3 separate regions of the Homo sapiens genome follow, and regions 1 and 3 are each linked to region 2. The links come from fine-mapping of genetic effects on gene expression. A gene starts in region 2. Each other region holds a variant in brackets. All regions are shown on one strand. Distances are from middle to middle.

Region 1 (8,184 bases), 27 kb before region 2:
TATGACCATGTTATTAGGAAGTCCTGAAATTTCAAGCAGTGGAGAAACATGTATTTCCCACTTCTTTGGAATCTATTATATGGGCCTCTGCCATGAAAGGAAATACTCTTCGGGGCTTCTTCCCCAGCTCACATTTGCCTCATCTGCTGACTGTGAAAGATTCCTCTGGCACAGAGACAGTGAGGTGGGCATGTGGGACAAGGGCATGGCCCCAAAGCCAGAGGTGCCCTGTCATGGGTGTGAGGGACATAAAGTGAGTTTTGTATACATGTATGACTATGTATTGTATTAGAGACGTTCCTATCCTTTGAGTAACTTTTTGGAAAGACTATAAAGGCTTTAACTTAAAAATCGAATCCGAGCGAGTTTTACTGGCACAAGCCAAAAGTACCCAAGTCTGCTTTAGACCTAGAACTACCCTGACTCCTAGCACGTGATGCTCCTTGAATCACAACTGAATACTCTCAAAGTGGGTCTCTGACTGAGGGAATTTTCTATAATTGGTTTTCGGATTGATGTTAGTAATCTTTAGACAGTTGAAGAATTTGATTATAAAAGTTAGCATAGCTTCAATGGGAATAAGAACAATGCTTCCTCCAGGACTTTTCAAGATCAAATTGGGATGTGGGGTGGGGGAGAAAATAAAATCTGTAACAGAAATATAGATGAAAGAATGCTCTTCTGGTGGTGATGACCCCAAGGCCTCTAGCCTTCCCATCCCTAACCCTAATCTGACTCACTCCTTGATCAGCCTTTCTCTTTCCCCAGTGATGGGAAATGTTATACTGGCTTATTGGCTAAAATTATACAGGATCCTCATCTGGATTAGGGTCAAAGATGGCAGCAGTAGAAAAGCATCCCCCAGAAATATGCAGGTTCAGGTCCAGACCACTGCAATAAAGTGAGTATTGCAATAAAGCAAGTCACATTAATTTTTTAGTTTCCAAATGCATAAAAAGTTATGTTTTTCCTACAATGTAACCTATTAAGTGTGCAACATTGTGTCTACAGAGACAATGTATATACCTTAATTTAAAATACTTCATTGCTAGAAAATGCTAACGATCATCTGAGCCTTCCGCAAGTTGTAATTATTTTTCTGGCGGAGGGTCTTGCCTTGATGTTGATGGTTGCTGACTGATCAGGGTGGTGGTTGCTGATGGTTGGGAAGGCTGTGGCAATGTCTTAAAGTAAGATCACAATGAAATGTGTCACATTGATTGACTCTCTTTCACAAAGATTTCTCTGTAGCATACAATGCTTTGTTTGATAGCATTTTATCTGCAATAGAATTCTTTCACAATTGGAGACGATTCTCACAAAACCTGCCGCTGCTCTACCAACTATGTTTATGGAATATTCTAAATCCTCTGTTGTCATTTCAACAATGTTCATGGCATCTTCACTAGGAGTAGATTCCATCTCAAAAAAAAAAACAAAACTCTTTGTTCATTCAGAAGAAGCAATTTCTCAGCCACTTAACGTTTTATCATGAGATTGCAGCAATTCCATGGCATCTTCAGGCTTCACTTCTTATCCTAGTTCTCTTGTTCTTTCTACCACATCTGCAGTGACCCCTCCACTCAAGTCTTGAACCCCTCAAAGTCATTCATGGGTCTTGGAATCAACGTCTTCCAAAATACTGTTGATGTTGATATTTTGATCTCCTCCTATGAATCGGAAATGTTCTTAATGGCATCTAGAATGGTGAATTCTTCCCAGAAGATTCCTTCCCAGATTTATCAGAGGACTCACCATCTATGGCAGCTATGGCCTTACAAAATGTATGTCTTAAACAATAAGACTTGAAATTCAAAATGACTCCTTAATCCATGGGCTGCAGAATGGATATTGTATCAGCAGGCATGAAAACGTTAGTCTCCTTGTACATCTCCACCAGGCCTCTTGGGTGACCAGGTGCATTGTCAATGAGCAGTAATATTTTTAGTGGAATCTTGTATTTTGAGCAGTAGACCTTAACAGTGGACTTAAATTATTCAGTAAACCATGCTATAAACAAATGTGCTAACATCCAGGCTTGGTTGTTCCACTTACAGAGCACAGGCAGAGTAGATTTAGCATAATTCTTAAGAGCTGTCAGATTTTCAGAATGGTAAACAAGAATTGACTTTAAGTCACCAACTACATTAGCTTCTAACAGGAGAGTCAGCATATCTTTTGAAGCTTTGAAGCCAGGCAGTGATTTCTCCTCTCTAGCTATTAATAGTCCTAGATGGCATTTTTTTTTTTTTTTTAAGTAGGGACAGGGTTTCACCATGTTAGCCAGGCTGGTCTCAAACTCCTGACCTCAAATGATCTGCCTCAGCTTCCCATAGTGCTGAGATTACAGGCGTGAGCCACCATGCCCAGTCAGATGGCATCTTCTTCCAACAGAGGACTGTTTCATCTACATGGAAAATCTATGGTTGAGTGTAGCCACCTTCATCAACGATTTGAACTAGGTCTTCTAGATAACTTGCTGCAGCTCCTACATCAGTCCTTGCTGCTTCATCTTGCACTGTTATGTTATAGAAATGGCTTTTTCCCTTAAACCTCATGAAACACCCTCTGCTAGCTTCCAATTTTTCTTCTGCAGCTTCCTCACCTCTCTCAGCCTTTGTAGAATTAAGGAGAATTAAGGCCTTGCTCTGGATTAGGCTTAGGCTTAAGAGAATGCTGTGACTGGTTTGATCTTCTACCCAGACCACTGAAACTTTCTCTATATCAACAATAATACTGCTTTGCTTTCCTATCATTGTATGTTCACTGAGTAGCACTTTTAGTTTCCTTCAAGAACTTTTTCTTTGCATTTACAACTTGGCTAAATGTTTGGCACAAGAGGCCTGGTTTTCAGCCTATCTCAGCTTTCAACTTGCCTTCCTCACAAGGCTTAATCATTTCTAGCTTTTCACTTAAAATGAGAGATATGTGACTCTTCTTCCATTTGAACACTTACATGCCATTGTAGGGTTATGAATTGGCCTAATTTCAATATTGTTCTGTATCAGGGAATAGAGAGGCCTGAAGACAGGGAGAGAGACAGGGAATGGCTTGTTGGTGAAGCAGTCAGAACACACACAATGTTTATCAATTAAGTTCACTGTCTTCTGTGAGCATGGTTTCAGGCACTCCAAAACAATTACAACAGTAATATCAAAGATAACTGATCACAGATCACCATAACAGGCATAGTAGTATTGAAAA[CA/C]TTTGAAATATTGTGAGAATTATCAAAATGTAATGCAGAGACACAAAGTAAACATGTGCTGTTGAAAAAATGATACCAATAGACTGGTTTGAGGCAATGGTTGCCATAAAACTTCAATTTGTTAAAAAAAAAAAAAAAAGCAATACCTGTAAAGTGCAATAAAGCAAAGTGCAACCAAACAAGGCGTGCCTGTATTTTGAAATTCAATTAAACTTTTTTTTTTTTTAAAGAAAGGAATATGCATATATTCACTTCTGGAAAATTTCATTGAAATGTATTATTTATCACTTACTATTATATGTAGTCCTTGTTGCTTAATTTTAAAACATCTCTGCTCCTTCTCCAATCCCACCCCCACCTGTAGGCAGGTTTTAGGATAATACTCACATGTCTGTAAAGCACTCTGAGATCCTTGGCTAGAAGGTTCTGTATCAAAGCAAAGAATATTTTGTTTTATTGATTGTTCACTAACACATGAAGCAATTTTCTGGAAATGGAAATACACCAAATATTTACCTTGTTTAGTTCTTTTTCTTTTATAGTATGTTGCAAGGAATACCACGGATAAAAGTAAGAGGACCAATAAAATCAATGGGATTAACACCATCAGTATAAACTCTAACTGATTTTCATCCGGAGCAAAGTTGGTAGAATTTATATTTGCATTTAATGTTTCTTTGATGGTCACTGCAGCAAATGTGCTTGGAATAGTCACTTTATTTGGTCTTTCAGATTCCACAGTTGTATCTCCTGAGTTTTCTAATTCCTCATAATTACCTGTGGGAATAGATACAAAATTGAAATTTCCATGGAGACAAAGTTAGTATGTTATATTGTCAATGATTTTTAAATTATTCCTAGATACATTCTGTGATAAATTTGACCCACTATACTTGGCCTCCAAGCTAAGTGTGACACAGAACATTGATTTAACATAAATGAAGCTCAAGCTGGGAGTGTATTGAATATGGAATCAGAGCTCAGAGAAAAACCTTGCACAAAGGTAGGCAGTTTTGCATTGACCAGACATTTTAGATACGCTTAAGCAAAGTGGATTCGGAAGCTTCCTCATGTTAAGGGTGATTTTCCAAGCCAAGTAATGTGATATTACAGGACATCTCCTATAGGGTATGATAATATTTTAACAAAATGTCTGAATAAATTTAAATTCACATTTACTAAAATTAAGTACATGCCATACAGCACTTTTAGATGTAAAGAAATGCACTCTGTGTCCTAATTTTTTTTTTTTTTTTTGAGGCAGAGTCTTGCTCCATTGCCCAGGCTGGAGCGTAGTGGCATGATCTCAGCTCACTGCAACCTCCACCTCCTGGGTTCAAGCAATTCTCGTGCCTCAGCCTCCAGAGTAGCTGGGATTACAGGCATGTGCCACCATACCCAGCTAATTTTTGTATTTTTAGTAGAGACAGGGTTTCACCATGTTGGCCAGGCTGGTCTCGAACTCCATGCCTCAAGTGATCCACCCGCCTCAGCCTACCAAAGTGCTAGAATTGCAGGTGTGAGCCACTGCGCCTGTCTGTGTCCTAATATTTAAATAAAAGGTTACCTATCAATGGAAAATAATTCTTTGAAAATGAATTGACTGTGCCGGGCATGGTGGTTCACGCCTGTAATCCCAGCACTATGGGAGGCTGAGGTGGGCAGATCACCTGAGGTCAGGAGTTCGAGACCAGCCTGACCAACATGGTGAAACCCTGTCTTTACTAAAAATACAAAAATTAGCTGGGCGTGGTGGTGCATGCCTATAATCCCAGCTACTTGGGAGGCTGAGGCAAGAGAATTGCTTGAACCCAGGAAGCAGAGGTTGCAGTCAGCCAAGATCGCGCCATTGCACTTCAGCCTAGGCAACAAGAGCGACACTCCATCTCAAAAAAAAAAGAAAAAGAAAAAAGAAAAGGAAAATAAAAACCATCAGGATGAGAAAGGACTACTGACTTGATGACTATCTGAAAAACTTTTCCTTACCTGTCTAAGCAGTAGTCATGGTAAGATAAGCTGAAGGTCTTTGTCCTAATATCGTATAATGTTGTCTACCTTTCAGAAGGGGCCAACTGAGGAAAATACCTCGTAAGTTGATGCTACAGAAAACTTATCAAATGAGATAATTTACAAGAAAGTTATTCTAAGGTGAAAGGAACTATGCAAATACAGAAGTCAGCTGCTTTAAACCACACTCTGCGGTATAGGTTAGGCAATTACTTTACAGAATGATCAAACTGGACATTGCAGAGCCAATTCAATAGTTCATCTATCTTCATAATCCCATGACAATGGAGTCCTCTGATTTTGGTTGAAACAATAAAAATGTTTGGTCACTGCTATGAATTGAATGTTTGCATTCCCCTCAAATTCATATATTGAAGCCCTAATCCTCAATGTGATGGATTAGGGCTAAGAGGTGAGGCCTTTGAGAGGTCATTAGGTTTAGATGAGGTCATGAGAGTGGGGACCCTATGACAGGATTATTGCTCCTATGAGAAGATAAGAAAACCAGAGTTCTCTTTCCTTGCCATATGTGGATACGGAAAGGTGGTGACTGCAGGCCAGGGAGAGAGTTCTCACCAAATACTAAATCTTCTAGCACCTTTGATCTTGAACTTCCCAGCCTCCAGAACTGTGAGAAATAAATGTCTGTTGTTTTAAGTCTTGCAGTCTGTGGTATTTTGTTATGGTATCTGAGCTAAGACAGTAAGAATCTAATTGTGTTGATTGTATGAATAAATACTTTCAGTCTCCCACATCAGGGAATTCATTTGATAATCCCTTTAGTAAATGCAACCCCAAACCATCAGAATCAATTACAAACTACAGAGTAAACTCACTGGTGTTTCTCATGTGTATATGCCAAAGGCAGGATTGAAAAAAAAAACTACCAATGTTTGAAGAGTGGAGGGGCTTCAAAATGGCTGACTAGATGCATCTGGCAGTCACCTCTTCACAAAAAATAACAAAAATACTGAGTAGATAAGCTACATTTTGAATTGATCATTTAAGGGAGAACACAGGAATTCAACAGAGTAGTAATAGACAACACTTAAAGCACGGAAGGAGAGGGAAATAAGGCATCCTTCTTGGCTGAGACTGGCTGGGAGCCAGGAGAAGCTCCCCAATGTGGGGAAAGGGTAGTGGTCCATATTTCCACTGCAGACTCCTGCAGCCTAGCCACGGGAGAGCCCCTCAACTCTCACAGGCCCTGAGACTAACACTGAGAGCGCCTGTACACTGTGCAATGGCATTGCTCCAGAGAGGGACCTTATGCGGAGTCCCACACACCCCTGAGCCCTAGTGGCTGCAGCACAGTGCCACTTTGAGGGCCCAGCCCCCACCAGACTGTATCCTGCCCTAGGGCCCAACAGCCCCTGAATCTCCATGTCTCTGGAGCTCCTGCCTGCAGCCACCAGCGCTGCTGGCTGCTGCTGCCAGGGCCAAGGTAGGAGCCGCTGGCAGCACCCCTCCCCCCACCCCTGGCCAGCAGCGGGGCGCTCACACATGTTTATGTGCCTCAAGGACAAACTCCACTGTCCTCAGCTATTGCTGCTATAAACTGCTGCTGCTAGGGCCAAAGCATGAGCAAAGCATAGCCCCAGCTGGCTGCCTATGGTTGCTCCCACTGAAAGCAATCCCATCCTCTGCAGTAGCAGGCAGCAGTGTAGTCACTGCTGCCTTCACCTGAGCTTTCTATCAGCAGCCTGGGGATTGCTTCACCCCTACCTATTACAGCCAGCTACTGCATGCCCCACCAGAGAGTCAAAGAACAGGTCTGCACAGGCCAGCTCTCTCCCAGTGCAGTACTTGAGTGTGCCATTTGGGGCCTGGTGATTGCCCAGCCCAGTCTAGTCCATCACCACTGGCACCACAGCATTCCTCCCAGATGCCTGAGGTTGGGACTACCCACTCTGCTGCCACCATCATAGTTGGCATCCACCCTCATGTACCAGCTACAGGCCTGGGGACTGGCCTGCCCAGTCCATTGCAACCACTGCCAACACTAGCATGGGTACTTGGGACCCAGCGTGTTGTCCTACCACTGATACTGCCAACACCCACGTCAATCTGCCTACCTGCCTGGCTAACCACTACCATTTCTAGCACCCAAGCAAGACACCTGGAAGCCCAAAAACCAGCCTGCCTGGACACACTAACACCAGTGCCAGTGTATACTGCCTTGGGATCCAAGGACAGATATGCTCAACCCACCCCTGTCACCACTGGGGCCTGAAGACTGGCCCACCTGGTATCCTAGTCCCCAGCAATACTTCACCACAGCCTCCACTAACAACCACATCCTAAGCTGCTGGGGAAGCCACAGATACTACTGGCACTGGTTCCAGCAGAATAAATCATATGGAGACTACACTAATGTACATACCCAGAATCAAAGCCAAAGCACTCTACCTAACCAACACCAAAGAAACACCTTACTTTCATAGGGGAGAACTTTTTCCTCCCCTATGAAAGTAAATTCAGAGGCCGGGCGCAGTGGCTCATGCCTGTAATCCCAGCATTTTGGGAGGCTGAGGCAGGTGGATCACCTGAGGTCGGGAGTTCAAGACCAGCCTGACCAACATGGAGAAACCCCATCTCTACGAAAAATACAAAATTAGCCGGGCATGGTGGTGCATGCCTGTAATCCCAGTTACTCAGGAGGCTGAGGCAGGAGAATCGTTTGAACCTGGGAGGTGGAGGTTGCGGTGAGCCAAGATCATGCCATTGCACTCCAGCCATGAGAGGATACAGAAAAACAATACCCAAAATTAGAAAACAATTCAGGGTATGAATGAGAGAAATTCACCAAAGAGATAGAGATAATAAAAAAGAACCAAACAAATTCTGGACCTGAAGAATTCATAAAATAAAATCAAATACACTTGAAAGCTTCAACAATAGACTAAATCAAGCAGAAGGAAGAATCTCAGAATTTGAAGACAGGTCTTTTGAAATAACCTAGTCAGATAAAA
Region 2 (8,184 bases):
GCAAACAAATGCAGCTCTATAATTGACATGCAGCCACCGCAAAGCCTAGCCAAGAGTTCTGTGCTGCACCTACAGCTGGAAAGGTTCAACAACCACAGTTTTCTAAACCCAAAACTAAACGAGTAGCCTGGCAGAGCTTGGAAACCCAGAGGTAGTATGGAGTATGGTTAGAGAATGGACTCCTGAGGCAGAATCTTACTTAGATTCACTAATTAGCTGTGTGACCTTGGGCAAGTCACTTAGCCTCTCTGTGCCTCAGTTTTCTCAAATGTAAAAACAGGGATAATAGTGCCCACCTTATAAGGTTGTTCTGAGAATTAAATGAGTTAGTGAATGTAGCATTTAGAATAGTGCCTGACCTATAATGAGTTCTATATATGTTAGCTACTATTGTTATTAATACTTGAAATTGGGACTGTCCCAGGAAACAGCAGATGTCAGCCGTGTTCATTAAAATAAGATATGAGATACCACAGTGTCAGAATGTGTAGCCTTACTTACATAGCTAGTATTTTCTACTATTCTTTCTCTCCTTGTCAAGATTCATCCAATACTTATATAATTCTTATTCTTCTGAACCAGCCCAGAAAATCTCCCATTCCTCTCTGTTTGGCCACCAAAACAGTCACAGCATCCTTGTTTCTGCCTCATGGCCTTCAGCTCTCCCTTCTGCAACAATTCTGCTTTTAGCAACTAACAAATCCCATGCTTTTGGTATTTAGGAAATTGCTTTTGGTTTTCTGATAGTATTAAGCTGACACTGACAGGGCATAAAGAACAGAGACGGGGACACCCCTGCCCCACTTTACTCCATGAGCAGAACATCTCCTTGAGTTTGAACTTTCTTAGGATCCTACACTGGCCAAGGCACCTAGGCCCAAGCTTTCCTTTAACTATGCTCACCCATTCCATTATAGTCCCAGAAAAGCTGCTTTCTTATTTCTCTCCTGGTGACTTCCAAGTGAATTATTTCTCTTGGGGTAGAACTCAATTCTATGTCAGGCTATCTATCTCTAAAAAGAGAAGAGGTCGCTGACTCAGAGGTAACAGTGCTGGTCTCATGCAACTGCAGATATTATCTCATGTTGCCTGCTCGTTGTTAATAAAGGCTTAATTTGAGATACATCTCAGAGTATACTCACAAACAGTGTCAGGCCCTTCAGTAGGTTGGATTCATCTAACAAACATCCCCAGGTATTTTTTGAAGAATTCAAGGAAATATACCTGTGACACCTAGAAAGTAACTCATATCCTGAAGCCTTAGGCACTATTAGCTAAAAGTAGTGTACATTAATTAATTTTAAAAATCTTTAATTTAAAATCACCTTTTCCATGATGAATCATCTCAAAGTCATAGCTTTTATTCAACAGCTTTTTGCAAGTGGGCATTTTTCAGACATTGGGAATCCCAGCAGGGCCCAATTAGCATGTTGGATTATTTAGGTAATCCCTGCACTCTACTGAAATGCAACTTTTCATCTTTGACTTCTCTTTACATTCCAACACTACCTGTTTTCAGGAGCTATCAGTTTTTTTTGTAATCAGCCTCATATCCATTCTAGGGATGATTTTCATATTTATCAACAATTATTTTCTCATTTATGCTGAGCCCTTACAGGATTTTGGAAAGTCAAAGGTGAACTACAGAGGATTTTCCCTGGAGCTGTTCACAGCCAGTTGGGAGGCATGGACACAATTATGGTTCAAAGTGATTAGCAGAAGTTTAGGTCTATCGGGGCACAGCAGCAGGTACGAGTAGAGCTCCAGGGAAGGGGCAGAGAAAGGAGACATCAAGGAGGAGATCACATTTAGTTTGATACTTTTAAGGTGATACAAGAATTTGCTAGGTAGGAAAAAGAATGTATTCATTATAGGCAAGAGCCACGGAGGGGGACGACAACTGGAAGGAGGTGCCACTGGGAAGGAGGTTGCAGTGAGAGTCTAAGGGGCAAAAATGAGGAACAAGTGAAGGGGCATAAATGAGGGGTCCTTAAGGGGGAAGATGTGCACGATCAGATTCAGGTGTCAGAAAGGCAACTTTAACCAAGTCTCTTCAGATTCTCTTTTTGCATCTCCTGAATTGCAGACACTAGGACTCAATCATTTTTTAGAAGCTAAAAAAAAAGTTCAGGCAAGATGAATTAGTATTAAGGGAGTGTTTGAGGCACCTGTGGCAGTGTTGTGCAATAGAAGAGGTGGAAGGAGGATGGCTAGGCTTTTCTTCCCTGATGTCCTACTACGAAAGGTTCCAGAGCTCTTGGCAGAGACAGTGATTGGTTCCGGGGCGGCGGTGGGGGGAGGGGGGCAGTGGTGGTGGGGGGTGGAGGAGCTCAAAGAACTCTGGAGTAGAAGCCAGAAGAGCTGACTAGCAGCAAGACCCAGACATCTCCCTTCTTCCACCTCTGTTTCTTCACCTGTGTGCCCAATATGGTTTGAGCTGCATCATCTTCAAGTTCCCTTCCAGCTCCAAAACACTGGGCATAAAACAACACATCAACTTCCAAACCCACTCTGAACACTAAACTCAATTTAACCAGACATCTTTTCAGCTGGAATGATTTGCCTTCCACTTTGTTTTCTACCTCAGATGCCTGGGGGACCACATGGAGAACACCCAGGGGAAGAGAAATTGATGGAGTGGGGTGGCTGGGTGCTGGCTGCTGACCTCCAGGAAGTTGTCACATCTGTTAGGTTGGGGCTGATGTCCCTCATTCTATCTAAAGAACTGTAGCTTGAGAACTTTCCTTTTGCTTGGTAAATACTGCCCTACACTAGAAGCAGTCGGTGTTCATTGACAGAAACAATGGGCAGCCAGTGTATTTGCCCAAAGGCAAGTCAACAAGAGAGGCAGCTGAAGGTGCTTGTGCTTGTTGTAGCAACTGGCAAGGGTGTAAATCAGTTGTTGCTTTTAGCCCATAATAATGAGATTCAATATTGTTTTTTCCAATACCTTTGATTGGTTCCAATCATATTACTTTTTCAAACAAATCTTCATTAGTAACAATCAATGCAAAAAAAAAATCTGTAAAAGTAACAAGGTGCAATAAAAGTAGATGAAAGACCTTACTTGATGTGTTAGAGGGCTACCCTCTAACACATAGCTCTTTGGTAGCTCTTCGGATAATTTCCCGTTTCCTTTTTTTTTTTTTAAGTTTATGTCGTTTCTTTAGTATGCTTTCTAGTAGTAAATTTTCACACCCCAGTTTTTCCAGGAGATTTTGGAATCAGCAGACTTCTCAGCCCACACCATAAAAAGCAAATTAATCATGTCTCTGTTTCAGCCAATTGAAGCTTTTGTTTTTTTTTACATAAACTGCCAAAAAGTTTATGGTTTTCTTAATATGCCCATTAAAGCTGGTAAATTACAGGGACGCACACTTCCTGGAAGACAAAGACTGAAAGAGGGTTAAATGAAGTGAGAGCTGTAGCCAGTTTAGACAGCTGCAGCGAAAGCGAAGTCCCCTCTCCATCCCACCCCCCAAAAAAAGGAGTTCTAATTTTCTCCACTTCTTTCACAGAAAGGATTAGATTTTCTGGGTGTCACCCTCCCCGGCAGAGTTCTGTAGCCTCGGGCACCCTACCAGCTTTTGCGATCCTCCTTCCCAGGAGTAGGAAGTGGAGGCGGCTTACCCCGGCCGACGGGAACGAGCGCGATCACCAGGGCGAAGACTAGGGCTGCGCGGGGAGCCTGCATGTCCGCTCGCCTCGGCAGAGGCGCGCTCAGGATGCTGCGCCGGGCTGCAGCCTCTCTGAAACGTGAACATTTCCTGTTTCCTGCTTGTTTGGGTCGGTGCTGACTTGAAGGAGAGGTGTGTGCCTGTTTTTTAGGAAGTGATGTAATTCTGCAGGAGCCTGTCAGACCAGCAAGGATTGCAAAAGAGAAGTTGCTGTTGAAGCACTGGTTCTATTATCACGCCTCTCCAGCCCTTTGGAGTCCCGGCCTCCAGCTTTTGAAACCGTCCCCGGGGCAACAGAGTCCCTTGCTCAGATGTCGTTCGGTATCTGGGACTGGGAGGGGTCCTGGACCACACGCATTCTCACTCTGTGATTTTGCTTATCCCCCAGGTGAGGCTCCGGGGCTGCCTAGACCCTAGGAAGAAGCTGTCCTGTAGAACTTTCTGCCCTGATGGAAATGTTCCAAGTCTGCGCCGTCTGATACAGTATCAGCCACATTGGCCACTGAGCATTTGAACTGAGGCTAGTGCTGATGGAATTTAAATTTTATTGAATTTTTATAAAATTTTAATAACTCCAAGTGGCTAGTGGCTGCTGTGTTGGATAGCGCAGGCCCAGACAGCAGGGACAACTGCATCATCAGAAAACTGCCAGACCACTTCTCTCCGCCAGGTCCATTCTCCTTTCTCCACTCTGGAATGCCCTCCTCCCACCAAGGCCCACGCCAGATGGAGGTGGATGCCACACCCACACCTTAAGGTTATGTTCTGCTTCCCCAGAGAGAAATGATCTTTTCAAGGTCCATTTCCAAAGGAGAATATGCTCTGAGGGTGGAGGTAGGGGTGAATCTGCATCTCACCTTCCTTCCTTCTTACTTGACAATCAAGTTCTCAGACAACAAACAAAACAGGACAGAAACGAAATAGAATAATGGTAGAAATCCTATCCAATCGAAACAATACAGAAAGGTTGTGTCTAGTATACAGTGGAGATTAGTGTGTGTTGGGTGTTCTATTGGAGGTCCTTCCCTTGGTTTAGGTTTAGGGCCTAAGCATTCAGAATGCAGTTTCATAATCGTGGTGCCAAGAGAGACAGACAGATGGAGAGAGGGGTAGTGTTGAGGCATCAGACACATCTCATCTCTAAACCTTTCCCTGCAGATCACCATCTGAGTCATGACTTCCCGTCGTTTGTCTTCAGTGATCTGGTTGGTGCAAACGTATGAGGTGACTGGAATTCCTTAGCCCCTGACATAGCTGTTAATTTTTCTTTAATGCATTGCTGCTTTTCAATGTCATTAGTCACTGTTTATCTCAGTTATTATTCACAAGAAATAGGTTGGTGATTCATGTAAGGATCAGTTTGTTAATGGATTTACAGTATGCACTTTAATGTTTTAAACTGGCAATTAAGTCAATTCTTGATAAAATATGCTTTTTGCACCACAGGTGACAATACAGAACAAACAGCAGGAGAAAATAGACGTGCTCAAAACTGGGTGATTGATTTGAAAACAACAGAGAAAGAACTATTAATTAAACACTTGCTGAGCATGTGAATAGATCACGGGCTCCAAGACCTGCTGGTACTGAGTTGGGGTGGCAATTATTCCTGTACAAGCACGTGTTTCTGCAGCTGTGACACACACGTGCAAGAAAGCAGGCCCAGGGCTTGGGAGTTCTCTCCATTTTACCATTTATGCCCTATTAAAATATTATTAAATGTTATTAAAACATTGTTGAATCCCAGGCTGGAGGCAAATGTTTGTCAAGGGCAAGGTTGTCAGCCTTCGTTTCTTTCATCTTAAACTTCAGCTCCCTGTGGAAGCTTTTGCAGTCAGGTGTCTGTGGATTGGACCACAGACTGTCTTATTCTGTGGACCTCTGCTGAGCCCCATGACATGGCCAAACAGTTCATTACTGTTTCAACAAGTGCACTATGCATTGCTTCTGAGCAGTGCAACACTAAATCAGAGTGAGGTACAAAATAAACTGGAGCTGCAGAGAAATCCTGCCCAACCATGTAATTTTCTTTTGACCCCTGTGCTCTCTAAGACCCTTAGCATGATTAAGCTGATCTTAGGGGGAAGAAAATTACCATGATTGATCAGAAAATGGTAGCACCTCAATGATCTCTTTGCTGCAGTTAAAATCCCAGGGAGGCTGTGTGGTAGGTAAAGGGCTATTTACCTCTGTTTTAATTTTAGCAACCATTAATTTAGGCAAATAGCCACCCAGCCTCAGATTAAATCCCGATGCACTGGTGGCAGGAAGTCAGGGCCTCAGTCCCAGATGTGGGGCACAGGGGAACCTCAGAGTGAGTGGCACACAGGCAGGGGTAATGCCACTTTGGAGCCTGCCATTGGCTGTCTGAAAGCAGGAAAGAAGTATGGTGCTTCATCATGTTCAGAAGGGCAGGAAGGGACACTGGGAACCATGTCTAGGGACTCTTTATTACTTTACACAAAGGAGTGTGACTTTTACAATCAACTGTCTGTGCTACAGAAGTGACTCTCATCCTATCCTCCCTCCCTTCCCCCCGCCCCCTCCCCACCACCACTCCATGGGCCATAAAAGAAGAGGGACTCCAAGGGAACAAATCCAGATAAATGATAGGATCTTCCAGTGGGTGCAGACAGCCTTCTCCGCGTTCCTCTTCACACTCCGATCCTGCCATTCCCAATACACACAGATGTGCACATGCACTCAGATACACACACAGCTGTCTCTCACACACACATTCATGCACATGGTGGAAATAAATGAAGACTAAATGAGCACAAGCAAATGAAACCAAGCAATGGATATTAATTCAGAGCTTGCCATAGCAAGAGAGTCAGCCACCATCGCTGCATTTTGGCACAGACCCAAAGGCAGGCCAAGGAATGAGATAACTTTACAGTCGATAAAAGGAAGGCTCAGGGCCGGGTGCAGTGGCTCATACCTGTAATCCCAGCACTTTGGGAGGACAAGGTGGGCGGATCACCTGAGGTCAGGAGTTCAAGACCAGCCTGGCCAATATAGTAAAACCCCATCTCTACAAAAATACAAAAATTAGCCGGGCATGATGCGGGGTACCTGTAATCCCAGCTACTCGGAAGGCTGAGGCAGAAGAATCACTTGTACCTGAGAGGTGGAGGTTGCAGTGAGCCGAGATCCCACCATTGCAGTCCAGCCTGGGCGACAGAGCAAGAGTCGTTTCAGAAAAAAAACAAAAGGAAGGCTCAGGTATGGCCTGAAGGGAGGCTGCTGGCATGGGGAACCAGCAGCAAGTTCTAGTGATTGGTGAGGAGGTGCATATTTTGCTGCTGCTAGATCAGAAGAGGAGATAAAAATGAGGGAATCTGTCAGAAGGTGCTCTGACCTCCTACAAGTTTGATTTCTAGCAGGCTGGCTTCCTAGACTTGCTACTGAAGATAGTGAATTGGTTTCTGGGGGTTGGTTGCTGCAAGCTGGGAGCCAGTGTTCTGTTTTTGCATATATTATTTGGCCACTGTCCATTTGTACATCCAGTCTCCCAACACACACCCACAGGCACACTCACATACTCAGAAATGTGCACACGTGCTCACACACACACGCTCTCACATCGACACTCACATACAAATGTTCTGGAGCTTCTTTCTCTGTCTAAATGCCTGCTAGTGACAGTGGATGGTTCCTGGGTGTTTGGTTGGCTGTGGGCTGGCCCTCAAACAAGATAATAGTAACATCAGGTGGGGCCTGTGTATCACTCTGAAGCCAGCTAGGAAGGTGCAGGGAGGAGGCAGATTGAAGTCCCAGGTTCTGAAGGAATGCCCAGAGAGGTAGCCGGGCAGGGCAGAGGCTGGGGCAGAAGGATTAGGCTGACATTTAGCGTGTGCAGAGAAGCCACAGCCAGGAGAGGGGCTGACAGCCATCTCACTGCGCGTGAAGTGGGGGCAGCTGGAGCCTGCACAGCCGGGCTCATCTTGACCAGCCTATCTCCACCCTTGGGGGTCTCTGTCTCTGCATCCTGGCTGCCAATACTCTTCAGAGAAACTGTTGCAAGGTTTGGATAATCCTAGGGGCTTCCATGACAGGGTCTTCCAGGGCCTAGGTAGATGGCCTGGTCACCACAACATGAAACTGTAAAGGATTGTGATTAGGAGCTAAAGTGGCAGTTGACACGTGGGACACAGTGCAGCGCTCTGGGCTAGAGGGTGCTGGGGCGTATCTAAGAGACAGAGCAGCAGCTCACTGCTGAACATCCACAGTCCTCCTCTAATTGCCCTCTGAGAGCAATGGCATTCTCTGTCTTGCTCTCCAGTCTATCCTCAGCATTTAGGACAGAGAACAGAGAAGTGAGTAAATGGGGGGAAAATCCCTTTACAGCAGTATTTTTTTAAGTGCACTGGAGGGGGCCACCTATGTTAGAATTATTCAGGGGAGCTTGTTAAAATTCAGAGTCCTGGACCCTATGCCAGAACTATTGAGTCAGAATCCCTAGAGCTGAGGTCCATAACTCTGTATTTGTAATGTTTGAGGGGAT
Region 3 (8,184 bases), 59 kb before region 2:
CATCCAGAGAACCTGGCTCATTCTCAACTTCTGACTCTCTAGATGTGGATAAGTAAGTACAGAGGGAAAGAAACATGTGCATGGTGGATACCTCTGCATTTGGCTGCTCCCGAGTGCCCGGCATCTGTTCCTAGCACTCTGATTCCCTTTAGAAACTGCTTTCCCCTGTATCTCCTCCCCACTGCCAACCACCTAACCACCCACCACCCACCCATCCACTCACCCACCTGCAGGAGTAGAGAAAAGTGTCAGGCCCACTCCATCCCTGTACGCATTTTTACTGGGTTAGGCATAAAACCCAGATAGTCTAATCAAATTCCTCTGGTGGTTGGGGGGGAGCTTTTAAATATTAGACCCAGGGAAGGATTTTCCCTTCTACTCTGGTGGTAAAGACAGAAGACTCCTGGAGCTCCCAGCTGCAATAATTACAGTCCTGTAGAGAAAGCTGGTCCCAGAGAATGAATGAAAGACAAAATACTGGAGAAGCCTGATGGGGTTTGAGTCCCTGGTCTCATTGTTACTCATGTCAGTTTTACCTGGTTCTGGTTGTCCCTGGAATTGGCAACTTCTTGCCCTTTCCAAGCATGATGACATGAGCCAATAAGTTTCCTTTTGGGCTGGACTAGTTTGAGTTGGACATTTTCTCACTGGAACCAAGAGTCTTGTTTAAACAAACACACCACTATTACACATACAGAGAGACAATTAGAAGTGTATTTATTTAGTATATATATAACACTATGCGTATGTGTGTGTGTGTGTGTGTGTGTGTGTGTGTATATATATATATATATATATTTTTTTTTTTTTTTTTAATGCAAAGAAAACTGTTGGGCCTCATGTCACTGGCTCTGGATAAGGCCAAATGTATGGGTGGAGCTGCCCCCTCCCGCGGTTGACCCAGTTAGCTCCTAGCATTTTCACGGCTCTTATGGGAGTCAGCATGTGTGCCCTGATGCTGTGGGAGTGTGGGTCCAAGTTTAGGGTCTGTGATTCACACTGTCTCTCTGGAACTGGGCTTTCTAACCTAACAGGGAAACTGGGCAATGCTGACAAAAAGAAGGTATTGGCTATCTAGTGTCCTTCCCAGCCTTGCACTCTCAGGCCACACTGACCCCTGTTCACTGTGCAGCCAGCGGCCAATAAAGGCAGACTGCATAGCTCAGCTCCGTTGTGGAAACCGCCTCTCCTCACCTCATTCCTGCCCCTTTCCAGTCTGCCTCTGTTTCCCTGTCACCTCTAATTTATATTCCAGATTTTGACCCCTCCCCTGCCCCTTTGGTTTTAACAACGAATCTTAGTTTTTGCTGTTTAACCCACATCCTCCCACCCTGCTTCTCTTGCTCATGCTCTGGACGCCCCTGGAACACTGATCCTGACGTGAGTTCATGTGGCTGCTTCCTTAGAATCTTCATCTCAGTTGCCGGAAGGCAGAGGGTCTAACAGTACAAGCCAAGAGGAAGGATGGGGTTCCCTTAGGAATGGGACAGGGTGGGTTATGAACAGAAAGGCACCTTCATGCCAGGTAAAAAGCAATCAATTGGCACTTGTAACAAGATGGAGGTATTTCTGCATGGATTTCATGGAGTTAAGAGGTAAGTGGGTCTTAGCCCATTAACTGGCTTAGTTGGTCTCAGTGACATTCAGAGGTGCTGGGGAACATCTCAGGAAGGATTTACAGTGCCTCTTATTTTGTGAATCTGTCTTCCTGCCCAGAGAAGAAACAATCCTTCTCTGTGCTTGTATTATCACCTAAAATAGATGCTTTCCTCTTTTTCTTAATAAAACTTGTATTTCCTTTCTCTGTGGACCCTCCAGAGGGCAAAGAAGAGAAGCTCAGATCTGGGTTGGAAAGAGCTGCTTCGAGCATTTTAATGATCAGTTAGGCTCCATCCCCAGTTTTCCTTCACCTTCCAAATTGGGGCCACTTTCTCTCCACCTCCACTTGCTTGTTAGTTCAATTATGATCGTTCTCTGCTTCCTTCCATATTGGATTTAATGTAGCTAAAAATACAATACAATACACACAATAGGACAATATGAAATAAAGATAAAGAATGACATCAGGATCCATTAGATGGAAAGTGAGGAAAATGCAATTAAACCAGGAAACTTGGGAGAAAATGGTGATGGAAGATGAACAATACCATATTTGAGTTCTGCACTCACTGATGATAAAGACTGATTAGGTACTTAAGGAAAGATGATATGTAACTCCTAGCTCATTAAATAATTGGTTTTTCTGTTATTATGGAGCGTGCAGTAGCGCCAAGCACTTTTCAGGATACAGAGATGAGTAAGACTGATCCCTATCCTCAAGGTGCTCAGTCTAATCTGCTCCCATTTTAACCTCATGCTTTGAGAGTAGTCATACATTTCTATGTGTCTGATCCACCTACAACCCATTCAGTCCCATGGCTCATGACTCATGTAGTTGGTAAAACTAGTTCTACCACCTACTACAGACTACTGGACCAGGGGTCTATGTCCAAGCCAAAGAGCACATAGGCACTGGGATTCAGGGAGGTCAAATATCCACAATGTTCCTTGACACGAAACTACCTAATATATTTCCTCGATATTGCATGAAGACACACCAATTTGGGCAGATCACATTTTCCAACGGTGCCTGCAACAAATCCCTTATCCCACTTGCTCTTCTCATAATGTGGCTTTGACACGCCTCCAAGGACAAGTGGGGTTTATGTCCTTTCCACCTTGAACCTAGGTAGACTTTGTAACTGTCTCAAACAATAAAGTATGGCAGAAGTGATGTGATGTGATTTCTGAGTCTAAATTATAAAAATACTATGCATTTCTACTTTGCTCTCTTGGGACACTTGCTCTTGGAACTCAGCTGCCATGCTGTGAAGAAGCCCAAGGAGTCTATGGAGAGGCCCACATCATAAAAGCCAAGGCCGCTGGACCACAGGCTTGGCTGGGCTCCTATCCGACAGCCAGAACAAACTTGCCAGCCATGTGAGTCATCTGAAAGTGGGACCCCCAGATCCAGTTGAACTGCCCAGCCAATGCCGTGTGGGAGAGAGTTGAACCATTTGCACTGAGCCTCATGCAAATTGCAGATTTGTGTGAAAAATAAATTGAGTGTTGTTGTTTTAAGCTGCTAAGTTTTGAGGTGTTTAAGCAGCAATAGACTGCTGAAACACCCATCCAATCAGGTTTTCTCTCTTGGGAAGTGTGAACACTGGATGCCTCCAGGGGTGGGCCACTTGAGCTCAGGCTGAATCCCAAGCAATGCTGATTTTGCTGTTCTCCACACTCCTATATACATTCTAGGCTGGAGTATCCTGCAAGCCAGCACGACTATGGCTGTGAAGAGGCAACATGCCAGTCTGCTTGAATGTCTTTCCAATTCTAGCACTAAACACACCTGTCTCTAACTTGAGAGTCCCTGGACATGCCTCTCCACTGCAACCTTAAAGAGGATCATATGCTGTTTATGTCAGCTCTAGTAAGTGGGAACTTTATTTTTTCACCTAGTGACCAAACCTTTACCAGCACTTAGATTTTAAAACTAGGCTTTTTACTTATCACCCCTATTCTAAGCCCTGGCTTTTTTCTCAGCATGATAGACCATTACTTCTGGGCCTAGGGTCCTGCCTTCACTGCCTCTGTTCCTTCTTATCTCAGCCTGCAGCCTCTGTTACTTCTTATCTCAGGCTATGCTCACCTTAAGGCATCCTTGACAATGACTGAAACTTTTTTTTGTTTGTTTTTTTGTTGTTTTTTTTTAGACAAGGCTGGAGTACAATGGTGTGATCTCATCTCACTGTAACCTCCGCCTCCCAGGTTCAAGTGATTCTCCTGCCTCAGCC[T/C]CCTGAGTAGCTGGGATTACAGGTACATGCCACTATGCCTGGCTAATTTTTGTATTTTTAGTTGAGACGGGGGTTTCACCATGTTGGCCAGGCTGGTCTCAAACTCCTGACCTCAGGTGATCCGCCTGCCTCGGCCTCCCAAAGTGGTGGGATTACAGGTGTGAGCCACTGCACCCCGCCAAGTGATGCCTTTTAAAACACTTTCCTACGGCTAGTTATTGGGGATGCAGTGCAGTGCAGTGATTAAAAACTTGTGCTTTGGAGTTGGAAAGACATGGAACAAGGTATAAGTTCTCTAAACCTACCTCATAAGTAATTACTAGGATTAAAATGAGATGATGTATGTTTAGTGTTTAGCACCTTCTGGCCAGGGTGGCTACCTCTTCAGATACCCAATATTCTTCCACCACTTTGTGAGACAGAATCCCTTATTGTTGAAAGTGATAATGTACCAACCATAGAGATGACTGTTCCCTGCTGCCTTGCAGAGATTGGCCAATGAGATGTAAGCAGAGTTGCTTCACTGGGCTGGCAGGAAAGCTATTTAAAAGTGGCTGACCTACTTGGGAGGCTCACCCTTGTGCTGGTTCCCTCTCTTTCCTTCTTGTGAATATCATGCTGGAGTTACAACCACCATTTTGGATCATGTGGCAACACAGGAAAGAAGCCCTGTACTAATGAAGGTGGGGAAGAGTTAGAAGGAACTTGTGTCCTAGATGACCAGGGAGCGGCCATATGAGCTCACCTTGAATCAGGAACTTAATTCCTAACTGATCCACATGATGAATGCTGGTCAAGATGCATCCTTTCCCTAACTCTGTGGGACTGCATGCTCTTTGGGTCCATGCTGTCTCCAGTCTGGCTAAGTTCTAGTTAAAACAGGGAGGAAATAGACTCTGCATCAGTTTCTAGGGGTAGATTGATGCCATAATGGACCAGGTTTAACTTTAGTTGAGACTTTTAGGAGAAATCTTCCTGCCTGTTGTTTGTCAATAATACTGACTGGTCTTTGTGAGCCGAAAGAATAAATCCTTATTCAAGGAAGTCTTCATGTTATCTACAACTTATGAATCTGCCTTTCAGCCTTACTTTCTTCTAATATCAAGGTGTGAGATGAGGTTAAAATTAAAGGCATGAAGAAAAGTGAGTAATCAGGAAAAAAAGAGGTTTTCTTGTGGATTTTTCCATTTTTACTAGAATTTTTTTTTTTTTTGAGATGGAGTTTCACTCTGTCACCCAGCCTGCAGTGCAGTGGCTCAGTCTTGGCACTCACTGCAAACCCCGCCTCCCAGGTTCAAGCAATTCTCCTGCCTCAGCCTCCCGAATAGCTGGGATTACAGGCGACAGCCACCATGCCTGGCTAATTTTTGTATTTTTAGTAGAGACAGGGTTTCACCATATTGGTCAGACTGGTCTCGAACTCCTGACCTCAGGTGATCCACGTGCCTCAGCCTCCCAAAGTGCTGGGATTACAGGCATGAGCCACCATGCCTGGCCTACTAGAAATATTTTTAAAAGTTATATTCTCATAAACAATTAAAATTTCATTCCTTCATTTAAAAATGTTTTGTAAGGAAGAATAAAGACAAGAATGTGTAATAATATATTTTAGATATGCAGAAAGTCTACTTAATTTTTAGGTTAGACAATTTTATACAAAGCAGGCCCCTTTTTGAATTGGTATTGTTTCGTTTATTTAAAGAATTATATGGATCAAAAGAGGGCAATTAAGAATTATGAATTATGAATTCTTTTTCATAGACACAGAAATTAAAAGAACTTTTCCTTAGAAAGATGCATAATTCACCTCTACTCTTAGTAAATAAAACATTTTAGTAAACAAATATCTTATCCTCAAATACACTTTTATTCTAAATATTGATATTAATTACATAGAAATTCACATAGAAGCTATTCATTCCTCATATCTTATAGTGCTTTATTTTTAAATTTATAAATGTTTTTCAATCTATCACTGCCAAATGAGCAATTTAGCACACAAACATGTACTTATTTTATTTAAAAAAAAATGGAGTTGAGAATAATTTATATATACATATGTATACTGACATTTATAAAATTGTAAATCATACTGGAAAAATACTATACATATTATTCTCAGTATGCAAAGTAGGAGAAAAACACCTAAAACCTTTAATCAGTCTTAAAATTCTGATAGTTTTACAAATTAGTTCTAATCCGTAGCAATGGGACCATTTCTTTTTCTTTTCTTTGAGACAGAATCTTGCTCTGTCACCCAGGATGCAGTGCAGTGGCACAATCTTGGCTCACTGCAACTGCCGCCTCCTGGGTTCAAGTGATTCTTGGGCCTCAGCCCCCCGAGTAGGTGGGATTACAGGTGTGTACTACCACACCTGGCTAATTTTTGCATTTTTGTAAAAATGGGGTTTCACCATGTTGGCCAGGCTGGTCTCAAACTCCCGAGCTCAGGCAATCCACCAGCCGTGGACTCCCAAAGTGTTGGGAAGTAAGCCACTGTGCCTGGCTGGGACCACTTCTAATATGAGGCTTACAAGGTAGAATTTATATGCTGCTGGGACAAAAGCTAAGTGGCAAATATGACATCAGATGATCTAACTGACCTTCTCAGCAGATACTCTGCATCACTTGTAAAACAAAAGAAAGTCAAACACAGTGTTTTTTTTTTTTACATAATTTTCAGTTAACTTTAAATACAAGATACACATGTGTTAAATTATTACTAATCTACCAGATTATTGTTTAACTTGTTGAATACCTATAATCTCTGCTTTTTCTGAAAGCTGGCATTTATTAAACATGTGGAGTTTTCACATGTTCCTGGCATTATTTATAATTTGAGGTGTTTCACCGACATCAGAGTAATACATTGCTTACTCTCCACTGATTTGTACACTGGAAAAATGTTGTTTGCTGCAGTGTAGTAGCTACATATCATTCTTTAGTCCTTTACATGCAGACCAAAGAAATGAAAACTGGCTGGGCATGGTGGCTTATGCCTATAATCCCAACATGTTGGGAGGCTGAGGTGGGCGGATCACTTGAGCCCAGGAGTTTGAGACTAGCTTGGCCAACATGGCGAAACCCTGTCTCTACTAAAAATACAAAAATTAGTTGTGCATGCAGTTGTGCACGCCTGTAATCCCAGCTACTTGGGAGGCTGGGGCAGGAGGATCGCCTGAGCCTGGGAGGTGGAGGCTGCAGTGAGCCAAGATCATGCCACTGCACTCCAGCCAGGGCAACAGAGCAAAACACTATCTTAAAAAAAAAAAAAAAGGAAATGGGAAACTGTTAAGAATATGCTTTTCATAAAAGTCCAGTTACTTATTTACAAAATACTAAAGGCCAATGATAAGGTGATATGAACTGAGGAGTACCATTACCCAAGCCTTCTGTACCTGAAGTCCAATTGTAAAAAAAACCCCAAAGCCCATCCACCTTTGTCTTAAACAGGTCTACATTGTACTTCTAAACTTGTACAGTCTTCATGAAATTAACATCTTCATGTTTTCTTAAGCACTTTGGTTTAGAAACTTCTTAAAATATCATTCAAAAAGAGCTTAGAGCATGTACAGAGTTCATATAAAGCTCTATTTTACATAATTGTATATACTGCTATCTCAGGAACATGATATGTTATTTAGAAAAGATAGTAGGGCAAAAAAACAAAACACAAGGTCCAGGTACAAATAATTCCAGCCAGTTATGGTGGCTCACACCTGTAATCCCAGGACTTTTGGAGGCTGTGGTGGGAGGATTGCTTGAACCTAGAAGTTCAAAACCAGCCTGAGCAACACGGTGAAACCCTATCTGTACAAAAGATACAAAAAATTAGCCAGTCCTAGTAGTGCACACCAGTAGTCCCAGCTACTTGGGAGGCTGAGGTAATAGAATCACCTGAGCCTGGGAAGTTGAGGCTGCAGTGAGCCATAATCACACCATTGCACTCCAGCCTGGGCATCAGCATGAGACCCCGTCTCAAAAAAAGAAAAATAAAAAAAAACACCCAAAAACTATCCCCAAGAGGACTAAGAAGGAAATAAAACTTTGGTGCCAGACAAGACAGTATCAAGATAAAGCCAAAGAGTTGCTAAAAACAAAAAATAATAATAATTCAGGCAATTGGTTGTCTGGGTTCTGCAATTTGAAATATTCCACTAGACACTAATATACAGGAACTCTTTTGGTCATTGTCACATAGCAGAAATGCTGCTATATGTGAAGTTGTTCTGGACTGCCTGTTATAGCTATTAAATGGAAACCCCAGAATTCATCCTGAATGTCTCTGAATGTGAAAAGTCACATGCGTTAATTTAATTCAGTATAAAATTTCCATGTTCTCCCACAA

What was found. PIP is the estimated chance that this variant, and not a neighbour inherited with it, causes the effect.
Region 1: its variant is the best candidate, but not a certain one, in a credible set for the expression of TMEM154 in whole blood (INTERVAL, PIP 0.74).
Region 3: its variant is the best candidate, but not a certain one, in a credible set for the expression of TMEM154 in blood mononuclear cells (TOPMed, PIP 0.63).

What each region holds. Positions count from the first base shown.
Region 1 is chr4:152,648,946-152,657,129 of GRCh38, forward strand. TMEM154 (transmembrane protein 154) reads right to left here. Exons shown (of 7, transcript NM_152680.3): 2 at 3,722-3,982; 3 at 3,593-3,631. Among named protein-coding and RNA genes, the nearest start is that of TMEM154, 27 kb to the right of the region's middle. The variant CA/C (reference allele first, on the strand shown) is at 3,205.
Region 2 is chr4:152,676,240-152,684,423 of GRCh38, forward strand. It overlaps TMEM154 (transmembrane protein 154), which reads right to left and starts at 3,758. Exons shown (of 7, transcript NM_152680.3): 1 at 3,631-3,758. The coding sequence starts at 3,694. It overlaps LOC105377495 (a long non-coding RNA gene), which reads left to right and starts at 3,846. Exons shown (of 4, transcript XR_939359.3): 1 at 3,846-4,065; 2 at 4,348-4,434; 3 at 4,836-4,901; 4 at 5,124-5,423. RefSeq lists enhancers at 235-324, 3,392-4,221, 3,532-3,841.
Region 3 is chr4:152,616,785-152,624,968 of GRCh38, forward strand. TMEM154 (transmembrane protein 154) reads right to left here. Exons shown (of 7, transcript NM_152680.3): 7 at 1,844-8,184. Among named protein-coding and RNA genes, the nearest start is that of TMEM154, 59 kb to the right of the region's middle. The variant T/C (reference allele first, on the strand shown) is at 3,837.